Regions from separate parts of the Homo sapiens genome. Here regions 2, 3 and 4 are each reported to be linked to region 1. Evidence: microRNA targets listed by miRTarBase, many of them from high-throughput screens and not tested one by one. Region 1 holds a microRNA gene; each other region holds the end of a gene's coding sequence.
The links. Region 1 holds the annotated microRNA hsa-miR-6770-3p (CUGGCGGCUGUGUCUUCACAG, at 2,249-2,269, shown strand). A microRNA usually pairs through its seed, bases 2 to 8, with sites in the 3' UTR of a target mRNA and lowers its output. Matches are read on the target gene's strand: a 7mer-m8 pairs with bases 2 to 8, a 7mer-A1 pairs with bases 2 to 7 and ends in A, and an 8mer does both.

Region 1 (3,111 bases):
CCACAACCGCCTCGCCTTTGCCCCATCCCATCTTCGTCCCCCTCCCCTCCCCCCAATTCCCATCCTCATCCCCCTCCCCCAATTCCCATCCTCATCCCGCTCCCCCAATTCCCATCCTTATCCCCCTCCCCCAATTCCCATCCTTATCCCCCTCCCCCAATTCCCATTCTCCTCCCCCTCCCCCTTCCCTATTACCATCCCTTTTCTCCATCTCTCTCCCCTTTTCTCCATTTCCCCCCCGATCCTCCCCGTCCTTTTGTCCATTCCCCTCATCTTTCTTATCCCCCTTATCCTCCTTCCCCTCCCTTATCCCCCTTCCCCTCCCTTATCCGCCTTATCCCCTTCCCCTCCCTTCCCCCTGCTCCTCTTCTTCTCCCCTTTCTCTTTTCTCTACCCTTTTCCTTCCTTTTTCCTCCCTCTCCCCATCATCCCCCTCATCTTCGTCCTCATCCCCATCCCCTTCCCCCTCCCCCTCCACCACTCTCTCTCCAGCTTCCCCCTTCCTTCTGCCTGCACCTCGCTCTCTGCCCCCTCAGGTTCCCCCTTTCTCCCAGTCCCCACCCTCCGGCTCCCCCTTTTTGCCTGCCCCCACCCTCCCTCTGCCTCCCTGTCTCTGCACTGACCTCACGCCTGTCTGCAGGAGACCTCATCCACCTGGCCAGCTCAGACGTGCGGGCACCACAGCGCTCAGAGCTGGGAGCCGAGTCACCATCGCGGATGGTGGCGTCCCAGGCCTACAACCTGACCTCTGCCCTCACGCCCATCCTCACGCGCTCCCGCGTGCTCAACGAGGAGCCCCTGACGCTGGCGGGTGAGGAGATCGTGGCCCAGGGCAAGCGCTCGGACCCGCGGAGCCTGCTGTGCTATGGCGGCGCCCCAGGGCCTGGCTGCCACTTCTCCATCCCCTAGGCTTTCAGCAGGGCCCCGGCCAACCTCAGTGACGTGGTGCAGCTCATCTTTCTGGTGGACTCCAATCCCTTTCCCTTTGGCTATATCAGCAACTACACCGTCTCCACCAAGGTGGCCTCGATGGCGTTCCAGACACAGGCCGGCGCCCAGATCCCCATCGAGCGGCTGGCCTCAGAGCGCGCCTCACCGTGAAGGTGCCCAACAACTCGGACTGGGCTGCCCGGGGCCACCGCAGCTCCGCCAACTCCGTTGTGGTCCAGCCCCAGGCCTCCGTCGGTGCTGTGGTCACCCTGGACAGCAGCAACCCTGCGGCCGTGCTGCATCTGCAGCTCAACTATACGCTGCTGGACGGTGCATGCAGCGGTTGGGGCACACGCGGCCCCCTGGCCTTGTTCTTGGGGGGAAGGCGTTTCTCGTAGGGCTTCCATGGGTGTCTCTGGTGAAATTTGCTTTCTGTTTCATGGGCTGCTGGGGGCCTGGCCGGAGAGGAGCTGGGGGCCACGGAGAAGCAGGTGCCAGCTCTGGTGCAGAGGCTCCTATGGCCTTTCAGGCCCATGGCAGAGGGTGGGCTCAGGAGGGCCATCGTGGGTGTCCCCCGGGTGGTTGAGCTTCCCGGCAGGCGTGTGACCTGCGCGTTCTGCCCCAGGCCGCTACCTGTCTGAGGAACCCGAGCCCTACCTGGCAGTCTACCTGCACTCGGAGCCCCGGCCCAATGAGCGCAACTGCTCGGCTAGCAGGAGGATCCGCCCAGAGTCCCTCCAGGGTGCCGACCACCGGCCCTACACCTTCTTCATTTCCCCGGGGTGAGCTCTGCGGGCCGGCCTGGCAGGGCAGGGCAGGGCATCATGGGTCAGCATTGCCCGGGTTACGGGCCCCGTGGGGACGGCAGGCAGCGAGGGGACTGGACCGGGTATGGGCTCTGGGACTTCGACATCCAACCTGGCGGAGCCTGGGCTCACGTCCACTGCCCCTTCCCTTCCCAGGACCAGAGACCCAGTGGGGAGTTACCGTCTGAACCTCTCCAGTCACTTCCGCTGGTCGGCGCTGGAGGTGTCCGTGGGCTTGTACACGTCCCTGTGCCAGTACTTCAGCGAGGAGGACGTGGTGTGGCGGACAGAGGGGCTGCTGCCCCTGGAGGAGACCTCGCCCCGCCAGGCCGTCTGCCTCACCCGCCACCTCACCGCCTTCGGCACCAGCCTCTTCGTGCCCCCAAGCCATATCCGCTTTGTGTTTCCTGTGAGTGACCCTGTGCTCCTGGGAGCCTCTGCAGAGTCGAGGAGGGCCTGGGTGGGCTCGGCTCTATCCTGAGAAGGCACAGCTTGCACGTGACCTCCTGGGCCTGGCGGCTGTGTCTTCACAGGAGCCAACAGCGGATGTAAACTACATCGTCATGCTGACATGTGCTGTGTGCCTGGTGACCTACATGGTCATGGCCGCCATCCTGCACAAGCTGGACCAGTTGGATGCCAGCCGGGGCCGCGCCATCCCCTTCTGTGGGCAGCGGGGCCGCTTCAAGTACGAGATCCTCGTCAAGACAGGCTGGGGCCGGGGCTCAGGTGAGGGGCGCGGCGGGGTGGCAGGGCCTCCCCTGCTCTCACTGGCTGTGCTGGTTGCACCCTCTGGGAATGAGTCTCGTCGCAGGCGTCAGAACAAGGCAGTTTTTGCAGTACTGTGTGAAGGGCTCGTGTGTTCATCCTGGGAATGACCTCGTGAGCACTCACTGTCCCTGAGGACTAGGACAGCTCCTAGCTGGAAGTAGGTGCCAGTCAGTCAGGGTGGGCAGCCCACGTTCTGCACAGTAGCGTGGCCCCACAAGTGACATGAGCATCGCTACCACTGTGGGAGACCATGCATCCACCCGCGATCCTGACTGCATAGCTCGTCTCTCAGGCGGAGGTGCCAGCACCCTCCCCGTGGCTGTTTCTTCAATACCTCCATTTTCCTTTATTGGAATTGCCCTTCTGGCATTCCCTTTTTGTTTTCGTTTTTCTTTTTTTGGAGACGGAGTCTCGCTCTGTTGCCCAGGCTGGAGTGCAATGGCGTGATCTTGGCTCACAGCAACTTCCAGCTCCTGGGTTTAAGCGATTCCCCTTAAGCGATTCTCCTGAGTAGCTGGGAGTACAGGTGCACACCACCACACCCAGTTAATTTTTCACCATGTCAGCCAGGCGAACTCCTGACCTCAGGTGATCCGCCTGCCTC
Region 2 (3,111 bases), not on the chromosome of region 1:
CTTATTAATGTCAGCAGGGTTTTTGTTATTTAGAATTCTCTACAAAGACAATCATGTTACTTGTGAACAAAGTTGTATTTCATCCTTTCAAATCTATGTGCATTTTATTTCTTTTTTTTTTAACACTGCATTATATAGCACTTCCAGTACAATGCTGAAAAGCAGTGGTGTGGTGTTCCTTGCCATGTTCCTGATCTTAGTAGGAAAGTGTCTAGTTGGAAACATCAAGGATAATGTTAGCTGTAGGGTTTTTTGTAGTATGTTCTTTACCAACTTGAGTAAGTTCTCCTGTATTCCTTCTGTGTTGAGAGGTTTTAACATGAATGGATATTGGATTTTGTCAAATGCTTTTTCTGTACCTATTGATATGATCGTATTTCATCTTTGAGCTGCTAATGCATGCAATGGATTACACTGAATATCAAATGTTGAACAAGCCTTGCATTCCTGATTTGCTAATATTTTGAGGATTTCTGCATCTGTGTTCAATGGAAATATTGATCTGTAGTTTTCCTTTCTTGTAATATCTTTGCCTGGTTTTGCTATTAGGGTAATACTGGCCTCACAAAATGAGTTGGGAAGTGTTATCTCTGCTTTTATTTTCTGAAAGAGATGGTAGAGACTTGGTATCATTTCTACCTTAAGTATCTCAAAAACACATCAGTGAACCCAGCTGGTCCTGGCACTTTGTTTTGGAAAGTTTCATTATTATTTTTTGAGATGCAGTCTCATTCTGTCACCCAGGCTGCAGTACAGTGGCACAATCTCAGCTCACTGCAACATCCACCTCCCAGGTTCAAGTGATTCTTCTGCCTCAGCCTCCTGAGTAGCTTCGACTACACACGCATGCCACCATGCCCAGCTAATTTTTTGTATTTTTAGTAGATAGGGGGTTTCACCATGTTGACCAGGCTGGTCTCGAACTCCTGACCTTGTGATCCACCCGCCTCAGCCTCCCAAAGTGAAGTGCTGGGATTACAGGCATGAACCACTGTACCTGGCCTTGGAAGGTTATTAATTACTGCTTTGGTTTATTTAATAGATACATATGCCTATTGAGGTCTATCTTGTGTGAGCTTTGAGAGAATGCGTCTTGCAAGGAATTGGTCCATTTTAGCTAAGTTATCAAATTTATGGACAGAGTTGTCCATGTTTCTTTCTAATCCTTTTGGTGACCATAGGATTAGCTGTGATGGCCTCTTTCATTTTTGGTATTAGCAATATTTGTCTTCTGTTTGTTCTTAAGCTAGCTAGAGGTTTATCAATTTTACTGACCTTTTCAAGGAACCAGTTTTGGGTTTTATCGATTTTCTCTTTTCAATTTCAATGATTTTTACTCTAATGTTTTTTCAGGTTACTTTGGATTTAATTTGCTCTTCTTTTTCTAGTTTCCTAAAGTGGAAGCTTAGATTACTTGTGTAATCTAGGATCACTAGACTGTATAATCTTAGATTATTTGTATGATCTGATCATGTAATATAGTGTACAATCTTCACACTATCAATAAAAGCCCCACACCAGCTTGATTCTGGTTCTGCTCCAGCCTCAACCCTCCTCTTCATATTCTCAAAAGTCTGAGGGCCCAGATCCCTGTCTGGGGACAATGAGCCTTGAAATGACAGTCCAACAGCCCTGGGCAGCCCTGGGCTGTATGTGTGGGCCTTTCCAGGGCCCTGTCTTGGAGAGCAGCTGCTTAAAGAAAATTTGGACTACCACTTATGCTGAAGGCTGGAATGTTCACATATGTACCCTAGGCACTTCATGGCATGGCATGAGCCACAGGTAGGAAGAGAAAGGGAGTAACATGGAGGCGAGCCTAGATCTTCACATGTACAGGATAGATTTTTTTTAGATAATTTGTTATTTTGATTTATACCTTTTAAATGGATAAACATTAGCTCTGTGGGTCTCCTTTTAAATTGTTTCAGGACATCACAAACATCTGGGATGGGCCTGATAATGTAACCACTACTAAACTAGGATACCTACTTCCTATTCACAATTACGTTAAATTCCATTATGCATATGAAACACACGATTTATATCACATACCACTTATACATATATAAGTCTTTTGAACTTCAGGGATAATTCGCAGATGTGCTTAATGCTATTGCCCTGATTATTCAATTTATCTGTGCTTTAAAAAAACTTCATAGTCAAGTGGATGCAAGGGATAGGGTTGCAGAAAGCGTGTGGTTATTAATACAAAAAGGGAACTACTTGAGGCTAAATCCTTTGTAATCCTGATACAGTACAGATCTCAGATTCCTTTTCAGTTCTGTAAACTAATCGTGTTGATGGTTACTCAAATGTAAAAGTCGTAAAAGTTTGATATAACCACACACACACACATACACGTACACACACACACAGAGTGCATGCAAACCATAGTAAAATCTGACTAAGTCTCTATCTACCAGCAAGGTAACATCGATTTCTTGGACTTGACCATATACTATGATTATACATTATCCTTAGAGGAAGTTTGGTGAAGTGTACATGGGAATTCTCTCTACTCATTAAACTTCTTGTGAGGTTATTTTAATTATTACCTTTGTTTAAGTTCTTAAAGCTTTACATTCCACAATATACATCTATAAATTATTGTTAGGTGCCCTAAAAACTATTATGGCATCAAACTCAAAACATAACTTGTCGTATTTTATTTCTAAGCAAAATTTTCACTTTAGATTTCTTAAATTGACAATTTTCTCCTCAGTGTAAATTCTAACATAACCTTATTTGCATTTTTGCCAAAAACTTTCACAAATTCAAAAAAAATCTGTAAGGTGTTATGCCCGTATTAACCATCTGATATTACATAGAATATCACTTCCTAACAAAAGCTGTCCTATAATTGTTGTAGTCTATGGGTTTATCCCCTACTATTACTTTGGAGTAACATAAGGTGAGTTTGTGGATAGTTACTGAACATTCAGGATGTCATCAGGGCTTTCTCCACAGTGTGAATACTCTGAGGCATTATGGAGGCTGACTTGTGGCTGGAAATTTCTAATATCCATTTCATTCATAAGGTTTTCTCCTATATGTCTTCTCTGATGTACAATGAGATTTGACTTTTGAGAGAAAGTTTTCCTGCATGTGTTA
Region 3 (3,111 bases), not on the chromosome of region 1:
CTGTGATTCATCCTTCACCTTGGCTTTATCTCCTTTAGCATCCCCTTCAGTCTTTCTCTTGGGCATGGCGGCGGCGGCGGCGGCGGGATGTGGGCACCGGGTGTGGGACGCAGCAGCGCGCGGGCTTTGGTCGGTCCAGGGGTCGTTCTTGCCTCTTCTCCTTCACACTGCTCCCACGCTTTTTTAATTGACAAAATTCAAAATATAGCCCAATTTTTTGTAATGCCTTTTTTGGTGAGAATAACATTGCCTCTAATCAGGGTTCTAAGTAAGTGTTCCCTGTGATCAAAATCAGTTGTAAATGATTGCCTATTAATGGTTATCATTAACCATCATTAACCATTAATACTAATGGTAATAAGATTTTACACATTTCATCTTTAAAAATGTCTTCTCATACAGATAGGTATTGCCAAATACTGCTATCAATCCAGGAGCATATGAAATTAACTGAGCATATTCATCACTTGGAAAGCATTTGTAAAATTCTTTTACATTTCTTCCCTTGAAATTTGCCTTTTAGCATGTCATTATTTTAATCACTTCTTACTGAAAATTAGGTTGAATCACCTCAATTGCAGTTAAATAGATTTTGAAACAGGGAAATTTCCTTTGCACTTGCACCTAGGTCCCTAAAAATGCTGAACTCAGAAAATATACTCACTAAAATTTGTGGGAATGGAAATCTTGTTTCTTTCTCTTTGATAGTATGACAAATGTGTAAGGATATTGTCATCAAATATTGTGATTCAAATATCGATTGTCAAAATGACTGTACCATATCAAAGTTGTTTTGCCTTGTGTTTTAGGCCATTCTTGCATTGCTATAAAGAAATACTTGATACTGGGTAATTTATAAGAAAAGAGGTATAATTGGCTCACAGTTCTCCAGGCTATAGGAAGCATAGCACTGGCATCTGCTTCTGGGGAAGCCTCAGGAAGCTTTTACTCATGGTAGAAGGCAAAATAGGAGAAGGCACTTCACATGGCGAAGGCAGGAGCAAGAGAGTGTGGGGGGCGAGTGCCACATACTTTGAAACAACAAGATCTCATAACTCATTATCTTAAGGACACCACCAAGGGGATAGTGCTAAACCATTCACGAGGGCCACATATAAGGGCTCACACCTGTAACCTTCACACATTGGGAAGCCGAGATGGGAAGATCTCAAGCCTAGGAGTTCAAGGTTACATTGAGGTGTAACTGTGTCTCTACACTCCAGCCTGGGCAACAGAGCAAGACCCTGTCTCTAAGTAAAAATAAAAATAGAGTCAAAGAACCATCCAGAATCATTTCCTTTTTAAAGTGACTATTTATGTCGCTTTCAATGTCCTTAACTCTTTAAGCAACTGTTCTTGCCAAAGGCCAGTAATCTTAAGTTTATTTTCTCTGGATATATTCAGCTGCTGCATCCAAACATAATTAATTCACACCATCAATAAATGGCTTTGCTTGGCTAACAAATGATTGACTTAGAGACTTACTGTTGTTGCAGCCTCATTTTCATTTTGTGAAGAAATTCTGCTTTGTTATTTCCATTTTAAATTTTCTAATTTTTCTAACAGTTGCTTGCCTGTGAGTTGGGAATACTGTGATGAGTGGTTTGTCTGGTAATGTCAATGGTTATTCTTTTAGCTTAGCTATATAGATGCTTTGTCGTCTAATTCAACATCAAAATAATTCACACCCTACTGTACTTTAAAAATAACAACAAAGTCCACTTTTCTTGTTTTGCTATAATAGATATGCTCTGGTAATAAAAAATAAAATGTGGGTTCATGTGATATACATGGCACTCAAAATGCTGTCGTTACAACCACATCAGTGATTTGTGATGTGTCAAACAGCAGTGTGAAGTGATGACAGTCACATTCAGTGTGTGTTGCAACCACTCAACTCTGCTATTGTTCAAGAAAGCAGCTGCAGTCCTCACTTCAGCAGCACATATACTAAAAAACTGGAATGGTACAGAGAAGATCAGAATGGTCCCTGCGCAAGGATGACATGCAAATTCGTGAAGCGTTCCATATTAAAAACAAAAAACAGCTGCAGATGATATGTAAACAAATGAGCATGGTATGTTCCAATCAAACTTTATGAACTCTGAAACTCTTAATTTCATACAATTCTAATTTTTAAAACTGATACATAATAGATGTCATAAAATTTTCACGTCACAAAATGTTCTTTTGATTATTTTTCAACCAATGGAAAACGTAAGAACATTATTAGGCCACAGGCCATATGAAAACAGGTGGTGGGACAGATTTGGCCTGCAGGATGTAGTTTGCCTGCCCCGTTCTAAATAATTTCATTTTTTATTACTTTTATGGTGATAGTTAATTGGCAGTAAAGGAGTAGTTACGTAAAGGACAACTACAAAGTGGTGTTAATACCTTCCTAGTTAGTACTCAATCACCCTACTTTCAAAAATTATTTTCCCTGAGAGAAAATATTTATTCATATTTATCCAATAAAAATTAGATATATTTTGTTATAAAATAATTGTATGTTATAATTTAGATAACAGGGAATGTATTTGGTAGCCTTAGTTCAGTTAAAGTTTAATTGGTAATCCTCAATTTGTAAAATAAGGCAAAGTACAAGGGTTCAATAGTAAAAACCAAACCCTAAAATTTTATTAAATAATACAAATTCTATTTCACTACATGTAAGTCTGGTAGGGAGATGGAGAAAACATTTCCAATTAAGTGTTTGAAACAATTTGTGTTTTTTCGTCTGAAAAGGCTTCAGCCGTCCTCTGCCTTTTAAGAGGTGGATCTTCATGATTCTCTGTAATAAATCCAGAAAACCTATTTTAGGTAAGATATTAACAGTTGAAAATACTCTTAAAAAAACAAACAATATAGGCATTTTTAATCTAGTCAACTTAAACATGAAATAACATTCTTGCAGATTTACTATTTTAATGAAATAGCCTTCTATTAGACTGAACTAACACAGTAGCTTTCTATTAGACTGAACTAATACTGCATTAAAATTTGTAAAACTGGGAGGAATTAGTTACAATTGAATGGCAAGGTTTACATTTAATTTCCCAGAAACTGCTCACCTGGATTTCTGGTCTGGTTCTTGTAGAGGACAGAGGC
Region 4 (3,111 bases), not on the chromosome of region 1:
GGGCCTGAGGGCGGGGGAGGGAATGCGGGGTCCCTGGACCCCTGCGGTCGGGGTGGTGAGGCTGCTCTTGCAGAGAGAAGTGGGGAGTGCCTGGCTGCATCCGGGAGGGATGGAGGGCTGGGGAGTTGGGGGGGTGGGGCACCTCCAGCCCCGGCGTCAGCTGTCCGCCTCGCCCCAGGCTCCTCTCGAAGATCCTGAGCGAGTGTGAGGACGCCGACGAGATCGAGTACCTGGTGGACGGCTCGTGGTGCCCGATCCGCGCCGAAAAGGAGCGCAGCTGCAGCCCGCAGGGCGCCATCCTCGTGCTGGGTGAGTGCCTCACCCCACCAGCCGCGCAGTCCGCAGCCAGGGCCGCCTCAGTTTCCCCATTTATCAGTGGTTGCATCCTAAGTACCTGCACCCTGTCCCTGTTGCCCGTAGGCCCCTCGGACGCCAATGGGCTCCTGCCCGCCCCCAGCGTCAACGGGAGCGGTGCCCTGGGCAGCACGGGTGGCGGCGGCCCGGTGGGCAGCATGGAGAATGGGAAGCCGGGCGCCGATGTGGTGGACCTCACGCTGGACAGCTCATCGTCCTCGGAGGATGAGGAGGAGGAGGAAGAGGAGGAGGAAGACGAGGACGAAGAGGGGCCCCGGCCCAAGCGCCGCTGCCCCTTCCAGAAGGGCCTGGTGCCGGCCTGCTGACCCCGGCCGCACACTCGACTTTCCTGGTGCTCACCACGCAGAGGGGCACGGGCCAGCCTCGGGCGCAGAGGGAGGAGTGACCTTTCTTTTTCTTTTTATTGTCGTTCGTTTTGTTTTTCCACCCTTTTGCCTGGCTCCTGGCACCTGTACCTCTGGACTCTCCTATCGGGGGATTAAAAAAAAAAGTAAAATGACAAAAAAAGATACAAAAAAGAAAAATGAAACAAAAAAGTCAAACTCTTAAAAACAAGGCCGGCCACCCACACAGCCGCCTCCCCGGCTGGAGTCCGAGCCGGGAAGGGGTAGTGGGCGGGAGGGACCAGGACGCCGCCCCGCGCCCTCCCCTCCGGATGCCCCGCCGCCCGCCGCCCTCTGCCCACGACCATTCCAGCCAGTGCGCGGGGACCCGGGCGGCGGGCGGTGGGGCGCAGCCCCTCTCTGGCGACCACTTTGACGTTTGTCTCTTCCTTTGCTTTTTCTCTGCAAATGCATCCTCGCCCAGAGACCCTCACGCGCCGAGCAGCGAGCGTTTTAGCCGAGAAGCCATGGAGTGGGTTGGGGCGGGGAGGGGCAGTAGGGTGGGGGGATGGGTGGGCAGGATGGGGGTACAGTGGGCGGCTGGGGAGGGTTTAGCCACAGATGTGTTGTATTTTTTGAAAGTGCAATAATTTGGTATTTTGAAGACCCGGCGTGTGGTCAGGAACCCCCGGGGAAGGCGGGGGCCCAGGGTGCGGCACCGTGTGGCGTGGGGGGGTCTCAGTTTTCTAGCCAGCTACCTCGGTAATTCCAATTCAGGTTAACTTCCCTACGGAACAGCACAGATGTCCACAGATGTCCACAGCTGCCGCCGCCGCCGCCGCCACCATACCCCGGTCCTTGGGGCATGGGTTGCGGTCGCTTCCCAAGGGGCAGCAGGGACCCCGGCCACCCCGGCTCTCGGTTTGGGTTGATTCCTCTCCTTTTTGCTCTTGGTTTTCCGACGGGTACGAGGCTGGCCCGGCACCCTGTCCCCCGGGAGCCTCACTCTTCCAGCAGGACCAGACCAGGGGCCTCCTTCCTGTCCCCAGGCGTTCCCGGCCCCTCGCAGGCCCCACCCATGCCCTTGGCCTCAGGGTCCAACAACTGGGGGAGCTACCAGGGCTCTGCCTTCAGGAGCCCACAGCTGGGCACCCCCCTTGCCCCGCAGGAGACCGGGGCGCAGGCGGGGCACCGGCCTCACCTGGTTCTCCAACACCGCTGCCTGCGGTCTGTTTTGCTTTTGTCCTCCCCAGCCCAGAATTTTCCTTTGTATAAACAGAACTCCTAGTCAGGAAGCAATATCATTTCAGGTCTAAAGAAAGGGACGTGCATCTGGCCGAGGGCAGTTCAGTCTCACTGCAGAGCCCGCAGCCCGCTGCGCAGCTCGGCCCCTCCCGCCCGCACGGGCAGCTGAAGGCCGCTGTTTTCTAATATTTGTATTCTAATTTAATTGTTTTTAAAAAATGCAAATAAAAAAGGTCGAGGTGAAGCCATCCAGGCGTCCGCTTTTCTGTGCCCTGTGTCTCTTAAGTGTGTACCCTGTAGTCGGGGGGCGGAGTTGGGGGAAGGACAGAAACTCAGCCTCACCCACATCTCTCTTTCTTGGTTATTGCCTCAGCTTCAGAATTCAAAAGGTGCTGCTCGTGGTCAAATGAGGCAGATTTTTATTTATTTACTTATTTTTAATAGAGACAGGGAGTCTTGCTGTGTTGCCCAAGCTGGTCTTGAACTCTGGGCCTCAAGTGATCCTCCTGCCTCAGCCTCCCAAAGTGCTAGGATTACAGGCATGAGCCACCATGCCCGACCTGAATGAGGCCAGTTTTACTGTGTACTGTACTGCCTGGGCCTGGTGTCCACCACGCTGGGAGAATGGGAGAAGGGACTTGGGCTGTACATGGAATTCAGGTCCCAGGATCGTCCATGTCTCTGGGTGGCCAAGACGATACACAAATGTTTTGCTTTTGTAAGGTGAAAAAAAAGGGCCGGGTGCAGTGGCTCACGCTTGTAATCCCAGCACTTTGGGAGGCCGAGGCGGGTGGATCACCTGAGGTCAGGAGATCGAGACCATCCTGGCTAACACAGTGAAACCCCATCTCTACTAAAAATACAAAAAGCTGGGCGTGGTGGCGGGCGCCTGTAGTCCCAGCTACTCGGGAGGCTGAGGCAGGAGAATTGCTTGAACCCAGGAGGCGGAGGTTGCAGTGAGCTGAGATCACGCCACTGCACTCCAGCCTGGGCGACAGAGCGAGACTCCGTCTCAAAAAAATATATATACAGACAACCAATGAGCACATGAAGAGATGTTAGGGATGTGAGTCAAATGCACGGTGAGATACCTGTCACCCCCACCAGGACAGCTAGCATCAAAAACAGCAGCGAGGGTCAGGGAAGCTGCAGTCCACATGGCTGGGGA

Region 2: the mRNA of ZNF33A is a reported target of hsa-miR-6770-3p. The part of its 3' UTR that is shown has no 7-base or 8-base seed match.
Region 3: miRTarBase lists TRMT5 as a target of hsa-miR-6770-3p. Seed matches in the 3' UTR shown: 7mer-m8 at 66-72.
Region 4: miRTarBase lists PIAS4 as a target of hsa-miR-6770-3p. Seed matches in the 3' UTR shown: 7mer-m8 at 1,536-1,542.

Annotation. Positions count from the first base shown.
Region 1 is chr16:14,928,611-14,931,721 of GRCh38, forward strand. MIR6770-1 (microRNA 6770-1) reads left to right here and starts at 2,210; the gene lies at 2,210-2,269. It also overlaps the pseudogene PKD1P3-NPIPA1 and the pseudogene PKD1P3. RefSeq lists an enhancer at 1,298-2,111.
Region 2 is chr10:38,056,377-38,059,487 of GRCh38, reverse strand. ZNF33A (zinc finger protein 33A) reads right to left here. Exons shown (of 5, transcript NM_006954.2): 5 at 1-3,111. The coding sequence ends at 2,928. Among named protein-coding and RNA genes, the nearest start is that of ZNF37A, 36 kb to the left of the region's middle.
Region 3 is chr14:60,972,401-60,975,511 of GRCh38, forward strand. TRMT5 (tRNA methyltransferase 5) reads right to left here. Exons shown (of 5, transcript NM_020810.3): 4 at 3,075-3,111; 5 at 1-2,794. The coding sequence ends at 2,709. It also overlaps the pseudogene RNU6-398P. Among named protein-coding and RNA genes, the nearest start is that of TRMT5, 7.1 kb to the right of the region's middle.
Region 4 is chr19:4,037,196-4,040,306 of GRCh38, forward strand. It overlaps PIAS4 (protein inhibitor of activated STAT 4), which reads left to right. Exons shown (of 11, transcript NM_015897.4): 10 at 179-309; 11 at 421-2,191. The coding sequence ends at 680. Among named protein-coding and RNA genes, the nearest start is that of ZBTB7A, 28 kb to the right of the region's middle.